3 linked regions of the Homo sapiens genome follow. The protein of the gene in region 2 interacts with the protein of the main gene of each other region in a pairwise test. Each region holds a gene or a part of one and is shown on either strand. Other genes may lie near its edges.

Region 1 (3,751 bases), on a different chromosome or scaffold from region 2:
GAATGGAATCCTTCCTCCTGCCTCACAAGAACCACTCACCCAGACCTGCAGCCTCTTCCCATACAGGACTCCAGGGCACAAGGCTAACAGCTCCAGCAGCAGCTACTATGAACAGGTCCACACCAACTGCCACTGTCCAATCTTAGTGGTACCCTTTCTTGTGCTACTTCCTGGGTCCACACCCAGCCTAGGTGGGACCAGCCTACTCCCTGCCCAGCTGAGGACAGGACGAGGCATGGCTAGGGAGCTGTCCGTCACACCTCATGGGGTGGGCAGCATCTAAAGCCAGGTGGCACCTCTCACCTGGTTACTCACCACCCCACTCACAGAGCCTGACACAGCCTCACTGCCTCCCCACACTCACAGAGAAGCAGGTTCTGGCTCCTGTCACTCTGGGCTAGGGAAGGACACAGTGGGGGTGGGACACTGAACAGGTCAGCCTCTATTCTCTTTCTCTGAGAACCAGAGCATGCCACGCTGCACACTGCTGGTGGAGGCAGCCTAGGGGACAAAAACCTTTGGTTCTCAGCCCACTCCAGGACCAGGATGGGGCCTTTCCTCTAGGCTCCTAACACCCACACACTGGCAGGTCCTGGTCCCCATGGTACCCTAGTGCCCAACACAGAGCCTGGTACAGAGCAGGTGCTCAGATATTTGTTAAATGAAAACAAAAACATATGAGATCAGTGCCTTTCTCCTACTATCTGAATCTGTTTCTCCCTCCATAATATGGAGTGTGGACCAGGAGGCCTCAGGTCCTTCCGGACCAGTCTGTGATAGCCACGAGCACCTGAAGCCTGGGGGTCCATGGTTCCCTGAACCTGTTACAATCTCTGTCAGGCAGAGAATGCACTGACCAGCTCCAAGAGTAAATGGGGACCCAAGTGTCCCTGAGCCATCCCAGGTGCCAAGTGTGACCTAGCTCTAAATGGGGACACAGGTGTCTTCTGGACTGACCCAGGACTGGGATGGGCAGGGTCAGAAGGGCCACCTTGACTTGTTCATCATCCTCTGTGCCACCCAAATGACCACAGCCAGGCCAAGGGTCTAGGTTTGCTCAGTCTGACCTCTCAGCATATGTTAGCACAAGTGGTTTTCCCACCCATCTTTGTTGTTGTTAAGCATCTGTTGAGGGCTAAGTGCTGGGGTAAATGCCTCACCTATATCACTTAACTCTTCTCAGTCTACTATGAAGCAGGTATTTTATCATTACTCTGCAGACAAGGAAATAGAGGCTCAGAAACATTATGGGATATGCCTAAGATCACTCAGCAGGACAGTGATGGGACAGAATCAGAACTCGGGACTGCTAGCCTCAAGGCTGTGCTCTCAGGCCACAGTCCCCCAGACAAGCACCCTAGTCAGACTATGACCAACCAACCCTGGAGACCCAGGGCCCACCCCATGGGGTCCACCACATCTCTGGGAAAGCTGCAGGAGGCAGTGGCCAGGCCAGAATATCCCATGCCAGGCTTCTTCCATCTCACTCTTCCCTAGACCAGCCTCCAGCACTGACCCCAGGGTACCCTGCTGCCTTAGCCCTTTCCCATCCAGGAATTAGCACCTCCAACCCAAGAGGCAACCTGTTGATTCCAGAACAGGCAGACACGCCAATGAGAAGACAGCCAGCTGCAAGGACTCTTCTTGCAGAAGGCTCTGACTGGGCCAGGTGTGGAAGGGGGGGCAGGGCCTTACACAACGGAGCCCTTGAAGGGGTGAGGGTCACACATCTGCTCTAGGAGCTCCCCATAGCCCACTGTCTGTCCCATCCCACTCAGGCTCCAGTGCTCCCAACTTCAGTTAGTGCCATCTCCTGGCCATGTGACTGCAAAACCTCAACCAACCCATGTCGCCTCTCACCTGGACCCAGCCCAATCTCTTCTACGGCCTCCTGCCTCATCTCCTTCCCTCCTCCACCTGCCCTTCAGCTAACTTCCTAAAACAAAGGTGGCAAATTGTGCCACATCCTTCTTCTCAACCTGCTGTACTTCCCCACCACCTGGCTGGGCAAACCCTTCCACCTTTCTCCACCCAAGACATGTCTACTAACCACAATTCTCTGGTCATCCCATGTCTTCAGGCTCTTGCTGTCACAGTTTTCTTAGCCAAGTACCCCTTCCCAACAAAGCAAAATTCTACTTACATGAGAAGGCCCAGCTGAAATCTACCCCTTCTCTGAGCCTCCCCAGCAGACTCATGGCAGCCTCCCTGAACCTACAGCTCAAAGTTCTGTGGACATCAAGCACAGTGTCTTGTTGGAGAATCACTTATGTGGGGCTGACATGTCAGCCACACAGAGCTTCCTGAGGGCAGAGCCAGGTCTGATTCATCTCCAGAGTGTAGGTGTAGAGTAGAACCTGGCACAGAGAGGGAACCAGTACATCCTGTTTCAACTAGTGCCCCAGTAAGCCGGTCAGCACACATTGGGTAGACTGCAGGACTTGTGCACTTGAGCTCTCCAGGCAAGGAAATCAGAGCTGGGGATTCCAAATGCTTGGTTTGGCATGGCTTAGTAGTAGAGGCTGAAGAACCCTTGACAGAGCTGCCAGCCCATCCAGCTGTGGGCAGCACCACCCCATAGCATAGCAGTAGGTTACATTAGCAAGCTCTGACTCACCATAGGTTGTAAGAACAGCCAGACGCTCACAGGGTGCTAGTGATGCTGGATTAGTTTTTGACTTCAGCATTCTGAACATTCTAAGTAACTCATCTGGCTCCACTAGCCCCCTTGGCCATCTCCCAGCACCAGCTTGAGGTCTAAGGAAATGCCATATCACCAGGTTGAGGGGCATCAGAATGGCTGAAGAGGTAAGATTCCAAGCCCCATCCCCAGGGACTGCCCTCTCAGCCCTCAAGGGCCTACAACTATGGCAGAAGAGCTGAGGGATGGAAAGCACAGAAACAGCAAGATGTAACCCCAAAGAGTGGGCAGAATCTGAATGGCCTGGCCTTAGAGCACTGGCCCCAAATGGAGATGGAAGGAGGGATGACAAGAAGAGGAGGCAGGGGACCAAAGTCCTGGCAGAAGCCAGGGATTCATGGTGGTATAGTCCACTGCATTTGGAAATCCACAAGTAGCCATGGGCAAGGGGAACCAGACCTGGGCAAATAGAAAGCCCACAAATGGATGCCGGGAGCAGAAGTCCAGGCTAAATCTGGAAGGTGCTTCAAGCTCATAGAGGAGGGGTCTGCAGGGCCAGCTTGAAGATTCTCCCACCCTTTCCTCAGCAACCAAAACTACCCTCCCCAAAGAAGCCCTGGCCCACCAGGCCCATCCATGGGGCAGAACCCCATGGAGACTCCTTACCATGTGGGGGTTGTCATAGTAGACAGCGATGGAGCGGAGCTTGGGAGAGATGCTGCAGCTCTCAGTGAAAAGCCGCCCAGTCTCACCATAGAGCCCCATGTGGAACTTGTAGGCCACAGTGACGTTGCGGATGGGGGGTGACCCAGCACTCACTTCCACCCCAGCCAGTAGCCCTGAGTACCCGGCAAAGGCCAGCAGCGTCAGCAGCAGTAAGAGAGTCAGGCCCCCAATCAGGCCCAGTAGTAGCAGGTCCGACATGGCTCTGGATCCCCAACACTGCACCTCAAGGCAGCTGCAAAGGAGAAAGAAGGGAGAGGAGGCTGGTAGCCTACTCTGACAATGTGCCCACTTGCCCGCCAACCAGTTCTGGCCCAACCTCCTCAGACCTGCCTTGGGTGCTCTGACCCAGAAAGGGGAGGGGCCAGAGGTGTTTACACACAGAGT
Region 2 (3,751 bases):
CCCAGGCTGGAGTGCAGTGGCATGATCTCGGCTCATTGCAGCCTCGACCTCCTGGGCTCAAGTGATCCTCCTGCCTCAGCCCCACAAGTAGCTGGGACTACAGGAGCGCATCACCACACCTGGCTAGTTTGTGTGTGTGTGTGTGTGTGTGTGTGTGTGTGTGTGTGTGATCCTCCTGCCTCAGCCCCACAAGTAGCTGGGACTACAGGAGCGCATCACCACACCTGGCTAGTTGTGTGTGTGTGTGTGTGTGTGTGTGTGTGTGTGTGTGTGATCCTCCTGCCTCAGCCCCACAAGTAGCTGGGACTACAGGAGCGCATCACCACACCTGGCTAGTTGTGTGTGTGTGTGTGTATTTTTTGTAGAGACCAGGTTTTGCCATGTTGCCCACACTGGTCTTGAACTCCTAAGCTCAAGTGATCCACCTGCCTCAGCCTCCCAAAGTGCTAGGATTACAGGCATGAGCCACCGTGCCCGAACTAACCCACTAATTTTTCAACCCACCACAATCTGGCTATTCCATTTTAGCCTTCTTCAAGATTTCTCTTTCCCTACTCATCTCTTAAATGTGAGTATTCCTCAGAAGTCCATCCTTTTCTCAATTAACACTCTGTCCCTGAGCAAACTCATCTTGCCCCCATAACTTAATCTACTACCCATCCACTGACCCTCCCAAATCTGAATTTCCAGGATAGACCCTTCTGAGCTTCAAGACTGGCAGAGCAATCACCTAGTCAGAATCTCCACAGGGAAATCTCATAGACATCTCGAATTTGACATGTCCAAAAGTGAACTCATCACATCCCCCATGCAGCTTTCCCCAAACAGTTCTTCCCTGTGTTCCCTGTGTTCACTGAATGATACCTCTATCCATCCACTTGTGCCAGACCAAAATCCGGAAAGTGATCTTTAGCACCTTTCTTCTACTTACCTCCTGCATCCTATAGTCCCTATGTCCCACCAGTTCTACCTTATGAATATACCTCAAATCCATGGTTCCTTTCTCTCCATTTCCACTGCTACTTCCCTAGTTCAGTTTCACCATTCTTTTTTTGAGACCGAATTTTGCTTTTGTTGCCCAGCCTGGAGTGGGGTGGCGTGATCTTAGCTCACTGCAATCTCCACCTCCCAGGTTCAAGTGATTCTTGTGCCTCAGCTTCCTGAGTAGCTGGGACTACAGGTGCACGCCACCACGCCCAGCTAATTTTGTATTTTTAGTAGAGACAGGGTTTTGCCATGCTGGCCAGGCTGATCTCCAACTCCTGACTGCAAGTGATCCGCCCACCTCAGCCTCCCAAAATGCTGGGATTACAGGTGTGAGCCACCATGCACGACCTCATCATTCTCTTTCACCTGGATTATAGCAACAGCTTTCTAACTTGTCTTTCTCCCAATTCATTCTCCACATCATTGCCAAGGTGATCTTTCAACACATTAATCTGATCGAGTCACTACTCTACATAAAGCATTCCAGTGGCTCCCCATTTGCTAAAAAGTAAAGTCCAAACTTGCTTGGTTTACCCCATGACCTCTCAAGCTTCATCTCTTGCCATTTCCCTCCTCATAGTCTGTACTATTGTGGAATTAAATTACTTCCAGTTCTTCAATCATGCCATGTGGTCTTTTGCTCCCAAATAGAAATAGAACAGAATATTCTATGCAGAGTGTTATGTATTCTTCTTCCTCTGTTTAGTGCCTTCTCATCTTTTAGGATTCAGCACAGATGTCTCTTACTCTAGCCTGGGTCAAGTACCCCTCCTGTCTATTCTTACAGTATCTTGTGTTTACTTCCATCATAGTAATAATAATAATAGCAACACTTATGTAGTGTTTCTTATGGGACCATTATAAGCACTTTTTACATGCTAACTTATTTAGTCGTCACAGGTTTTTTTGTGGTAGGCACTAATAATCCCTATTGTATAGATGAAGAAACTGAGGCAGAGATAGTACATTTTGCATTATGTTGCAATTTCCTGTTTAAACCCTCATTCTTCCCTATTAGCCTGTGAGCTACTTGAGGGCAAGACTATATCTTATGTATCTCTGTATCTCATGTGCCTTACATACTGCTTTATCCAGAGCAGCAATTCAAAAACTGTCTTCTTAATAAATGAATGAAGTTGGCAAAGAGGTTTGAGGGGCTCCATATGACTAAAATATAGGGACTTTCCAAATGAGTCAATAACGCTTCAGTGTAAGGGTCATTGAAGTGCTGCCCAACGTTGGGAAAGAAGAAAGAGAGAGATGGGGGATCAGAGGAAGAAAGAGGTAAGGGGGGAGAGAGAGACAGCAGAGCTTCACTATGTATATATATAATGTATATTATATATATTTATAATATATATGCATTTGTGGAATATTTTGTCTCCTCAACCAAATTCTAAACAATTTAAGGGTGAAAAAATATATATTAAATGTCTATCATGCTTCCACAGCATTGGGCACATGATTGATAGTCAATACGATTCATCAGCATTGGAAACACCAATGCCAGTGTTGATGCAAAGCAGTGCAGAGCAGGAGCCGATAAACATTTGATGAAGGGAGAGAAACATAGTTTGAATCTCACCTCTGTCACTCATTAGCAAGTCTTTCTTGACATTGGTTTCTTATTGCTAACCTTGGCACAATTGTACCTGTCCTGATCATGACTATGTATCTCATTGAGGCCTTCAGTGCTGCTTGGAAATCCTTCTACTTCTCCCTGGTAAGCACCCTTCTGATGACTGCTTCAAACATTTACTACTACTTTTTGAGCTCCCTACTCTACCTCCTCCCTGTGCAGCTATTACTCCTATCTTGATCATTCTCTTTGCAGCCAAGATCCTTAAACAAGCCATTCATTATTGATGTCTCCACTTCTTCACCCTCCCACTCACTGCTCAGCCCTCTGCAGTCTGGCTTCCACCATTAGCCCTCCACTGAAAATATTCTCACCAAAGTTATCAACTCTTTTCTTGATCCAAAATTCAATGATCATATCTCTGTCATCTCACCTTGTCTCTCTCCTTCATAAAACTATCTTCTCCCTTGTTTTCTGTAACACCACTCCATTTTAACTACTTCTCAAAATGATTCTTCTAGTTTTCCCTTATAAGTTCCTCTTCTTCTGCTCACTCTTTAAGTCTAACTATCCATCTCTGCCCCTCTAGCCTCCTCAGGGTTTCATCTCGACTTCTAGATGGCTCTTCTTATCCTTCACATTCTTCATGGGTTATCTCATCCTCTCTGTCTCCATGCCAGTGACTCCTGAATTCATATCTCTGCCACAGATTTCTCTCCTGAACTCAAGATTTGTGTAGTTAACTATTACTTGGAATGGCCCTACCTGAATGTTTTAATGGCCTCAAATTCAACATTTGCAAAGCTGGAATCATCTGCCCTTTTTGCTCCCCATGCCCAAACTGCTCCTCATGCAGTGTTCCTTACCTCAGTGGGGCTGTCACTGAGTTAATAACCCAAGCCAGTCATCCTTGCTTTTTCACCTCTTGTTGACATATAATTAATTATAATGTACCATCAGGTCTGCCTTCAAAAATAGACTGTGAATCCATCTACTTCTTTCTGTCGCCACTGCCCTAAACCATAGTTCAGACTATGCAACCATCGTTTCTTGTCTATTTGAAAATCTCATAGACACCTCAAATTGATCTCTCTAATTCCACTTCTGCCCCAATCCTGCAATAATGAATTACCTACCCAGTAGTCAAAGATCTTTGTAAAGTTGAAATCAAATTGTGACTTTCAC
Region 3 (3,751 bases), on a different chromosome or scaffold from region 2:
ATTTTTGGAATTGGGAAGTGTTTTCCTTCAATTTCATTTTTCTTGTTCAATATTATTTGGGTTATTCTGGGTTTCTTGAATTTGTATAAATTTTAAGATCAGCTTGCCAATTTCTGCAAGAAGTCCACTGGGATTCTTGAAGAGGATTGTGTTTAATCTGTACATTAATTGGGGAATATTACCATTTTAGCAATATTAAGCCTTCCAATCATGAGTGTGGTGTCTTTCTGTTTATTTAAATCTTAACTTTCTTCCAACAATGTTTTGTAGTTTCTATGAATACAAGTCTTGCAGTTCTTTTGTTAACATTATTCCTATTTTATTCTTTTTGATGCCATATTGTATACAGGATTGTTTTTTTAATTTCATTTTCAGATTGCTTGTTGCTAATGTAGAGAAATACAATTGATTTTTGTATATCGATATTGTATCCTACAACTGGCTGAACTCATTTATTAGTTATAATAGATTTTTAGTGAATTCCTTAGGATTTTCTGCATACAGATCATATCATCTGCAAATAAGGATAGTTTTACTTCTTCCTTTTCAATCTGGATGCCTTTTATTTCATTTTCTTGCCTAATTGCCTTGGCTACAACCTCCTCTAGTACAATATAAATAGAAGTGACAAGAACAGACATCCTTGTCTTATTCCTGATCTTGGGGGAAGGCATACAGTCTTTCATCATTAAATACAATGTTAGCTATGGGTTTTTTGTAGGTCCCTTTTCTTAGATTAGGAAGGTGTCTTCTAGTTTATTGAATGGTGTTTGGTTTGGTTTGGTTTGGTTTTTTGAGATGGAGTCTCGCTTTGTCGCCCAGGCTGCAGTGCAGTGGCGTGATCTCGGCTCACTGCAACCTCCGCCTCCCAGGTCCATGTGATTCTCCTAACTCAGCCTCCTGAGTAGCTGGGACTGCAGGTGCATGCCACCACCACACCCGGCTAATTTTTTGTATTTTTAGTAGAGGCGGGGTTTCATTGTGCTAGCCAGGATGGTCTCTATCTCCTGACCTCGTGGGATCTGCCCACCTCGGCCTTCCAAAGTGCTGGAATTACAGGTGTGAGCCACCGCACCCAGCCCCTATTGAATGGTTTTTATTAGGAAATGGTGTTGGATTTTGTCAAATGCTTTTTCCATGTCTGTTGAGATGATCAAGTGAATTTTGTCTTCTATTGATATGGTATATTGCATTAATTGATTTTCAGATGTTAAACCAACCTTGCAGTCCTGGGATAAATCTTATTTGGCCATGATGTATGATTCCTCTTATATATTGCTGGGTTCGTTTTGCTAGTATTTTGTTGAGGATTTTTGTATTTATATTCATATAGGATATTGGCCTATGGTTTTCTTTTAATGTCTGGATTTGGTAGCAGGATGATACTGACCTTATAGAATGCTTCCTCTTCTATTTTTTGGAAGAGTCTGTGAAGATAATTCTTATTTAATAATAATAATTCTTATTTAAATGTTTGCTAGGCTGGGTGTGGTGGCTCACGCCTGTGATCCCAGCACTTTTCGAGGCTGAGGCGGGTGGATCACCTGAGGTCGAGAGTTCAAGACCAGCCTGACCAACATGGAGAAACCCCATCTCTACTAAAAATACAGAATTAGCCAGGCGTGGTGGTGCATGCCTGTAATCCTAGCTACTCGGCAGGCTGAGGCAGGAGAATCCCTTGAACGTGGGAGGCGGAGGTTGCGGTGAGCTGAGATCGCGCCATTGCACTCCAGCCTGGGCAACAAGAGCGAAACTCTGTCTCAAAAAAAATAATAGTAATAATAAATAAATGTTTGGTACATTCCACCAGTGAAGCCTCTTGGCCTGGACTTTTCATTGTGAGTAGTTTTTTTATTATTATTAATTCAATCTTTTGTCATATAAGTCTATTCATATCTGGTATTTCTTCTTAAATCAGTTTTGTTAGTTTCTATCTTTCTAGGATTTTGTCCATTTTATTCAGTTATCTTTTGAAGAGATTTAGATAATAATGAGCAAAAATCTTAGTTACCAATGTCGTTAACATTAATGATGTTTTTCATTGCTTTGTATAAATCCATATTCCTTTCTGGTATTATGTTCCTCTGCCTAAAAGACTTACAGTACAGGTATGATGGTGATGAATTCCTTTAGCTTTTTATGTAGAGAAAGTATTTTGCCTTTTTCAAAGATAATTTCTCTGGGTATAGAATTGTAGGCTGGCATATTTTTCTTTTTAGTTCTTTAAAGATCATTGTTCCACTGTCTAATTACTTTCAGTTTTCAAAGAGTAATCTGTCATTATTATCTTTTGTTCCTTGTATGTGATGTGCATTTTTCATGTGGCCAGTTTAAAGATTTTCTCTTTACATTGGATTTGAGCAATTTGATTATCATGTACCTTGCTATAATTTTCTTTATGGCTATTTGGGATTGGTTGAGCTTCTTATGTGTGTTTATAGTTTCCATCAAATTTGGGAAATTTTCAGCCTTATTTGTTTAAGTATTTCTCCTGACTCCTTCCCCCTTCTTTGGGGACTCCAGTTACATGTATATTAGGCTGTTTGAAGTTGTCACAGAGCTTATCAATGCTTTGTTTATATTTTTGATTCTTTTTTCTTTCTGTATGTTGCATAGTTTCTTTTGCTACATCTCTAGTTTACTAATATTTTCTTCTAAAATATCTAATCTGCCATTAATCCCATTCAGTGTATTTTTCATCTCAGACACTGAAATTTTCATCTCCTGAAGTTTAACTTGGATCTCTTTTATGTCATTCATACCTCTACTTAAATTTTTGAACATAAACATCATTTTAAAAATACAGTTATGATAGCTGTTTTGGTGTCCTTTTTCTGCAGATTCCCACATCTGTCAGTTCTAATCATTGGTCAGTTTTAATTGTTGATTTTTTTCATTATGGATCATATTTTTTTATACCTGGTAATTTTTGTTGAGATGCCAGATATTGTGAATTTTATTTTGTTGAGTACTGGATATTTCTGTATTCTTATAAATATTCTTAAGGCTTGTTGTGCTATTACTTGGAAATAATGTGATCCTTTCAAGTCTTGCTTTTAAGATGTATTGGCAGGATTAGTGCCATGTTTAGTCTAGAGCTAATTATTTCCCACTACTGAGACAAGATTTTTTTGAGTGCTCTACCGAGTGCCCTGGGAATTCTGAGGTTTTCCAGTCTGTCTGTTGGGAACATGCACTAATCCTGGCCCTGTATGAATGCTGGGTTCTGTGTCCTCTAATTTTGTGTGTGGTCCTTTCCTTAGCCCGTTAGTTGCCTCATAAGCCTTTACTTATCAGTGCTCTGCCAAATACCCATGGGATATCCTATTCAGATTTCTGGAGTTCTCTCTGTGTGCAGCTGTATCCACTCTGGTACTATATGCTTTAATCCTAGATACCTTGGTCTCTTCAGACTATGAGCTGCATCCCATGAACTCAGGGAATCTGCTGGGCTCTGCTTAGGTTCCCCTCCTTGTGTGGCTCAGAAACTAAGGCAGTAAGCTGGCAACCACTTGTTTCTTGTTTCTCTGGGGATCACTGTCCTTTGTTACCTGATGTTAAATATCTTGAAAATCATTGTTTCATATTTTGGGTTTGTTGGCAGGAAAAGTTGTTTGTTTGTTTTTGGTTGTTTCAAGACAACCAAAGAGAGCAAATCTGAGAGTAAATCTGGCCCGTTACTTCATCTTGGTCGTAAAAGGAAGTCAGTTTTTTAAGCAGTTTTAGAGAGTTAGAATTGATGGCTTGTAAG

Evidence for each region.
Region 1: the proteins of CLDN2 (region 2) and TEX264 interact in binary tests that used the Homo sapiens proteins (3 or more experiments, as listed by UniProt).
Region 3: the proteins of CLDN2 (region 2) and CSGALNACT2 interact in binary tests that used the Homo sapiens proteins (3 or more experiments, as listed by UniProt).

What each region holds. Positions count from the first base shown.
Region 1 is NC_000003.12:51,674,119-51,677,869, reverse strand, and holds part of TEX264 (testis-expressed protein 264), read right to left. Parts: intron 3,600-3,751; coding exon of another isoform or gene 3,566-3,599; coding exon 3,308-3,565; intron 1-3,307. UniProt on the Homo sapiens protein: Major reticulophagy (also called ER-phagy) receptor that acts independently of other candidate reticulophagy receptors to remodel subdomains of the endoplasmic reticulum into autophagosomes upon nutrient stress, which then fuse with lysosomes for endoplasmic reticulum turnover.
Region 2 is NC_000023.11:106,923,310-106,927,060, reverse strand, and holds part of CLDN2 (claudin-2), read right to left. Parts: intron 1-3,751. UniProt on the Homo sapiens protein: Forms paracellular channels: polymerizes in tight junction strands with cation- and water-selective channels through the strands, conveying epithelial permeability in a process known as paracellular tight junction permeability.
Region 3 is NC_000010.11:43,148,306-43,152,056, forward strand, and holds part of CSGALNACT2 (chondroitin sulfate N-acetylgalactosaminyltransferase 2), read left to right. Parts: intron 1-1,481; exon of another isoform or gene 1,482-1,838; intron 1,839-3,751. UniProt on the Homo sapiens protein: Transfers 1,4-N-acetylgalactosamine (GalNAc) from UDP-GalNAc to the non-reducing end of glucuronic acid (GlcUA). Required for addition of the first GalNAc to the core tetrasaccharide linker and for elongation of chondroitin chains.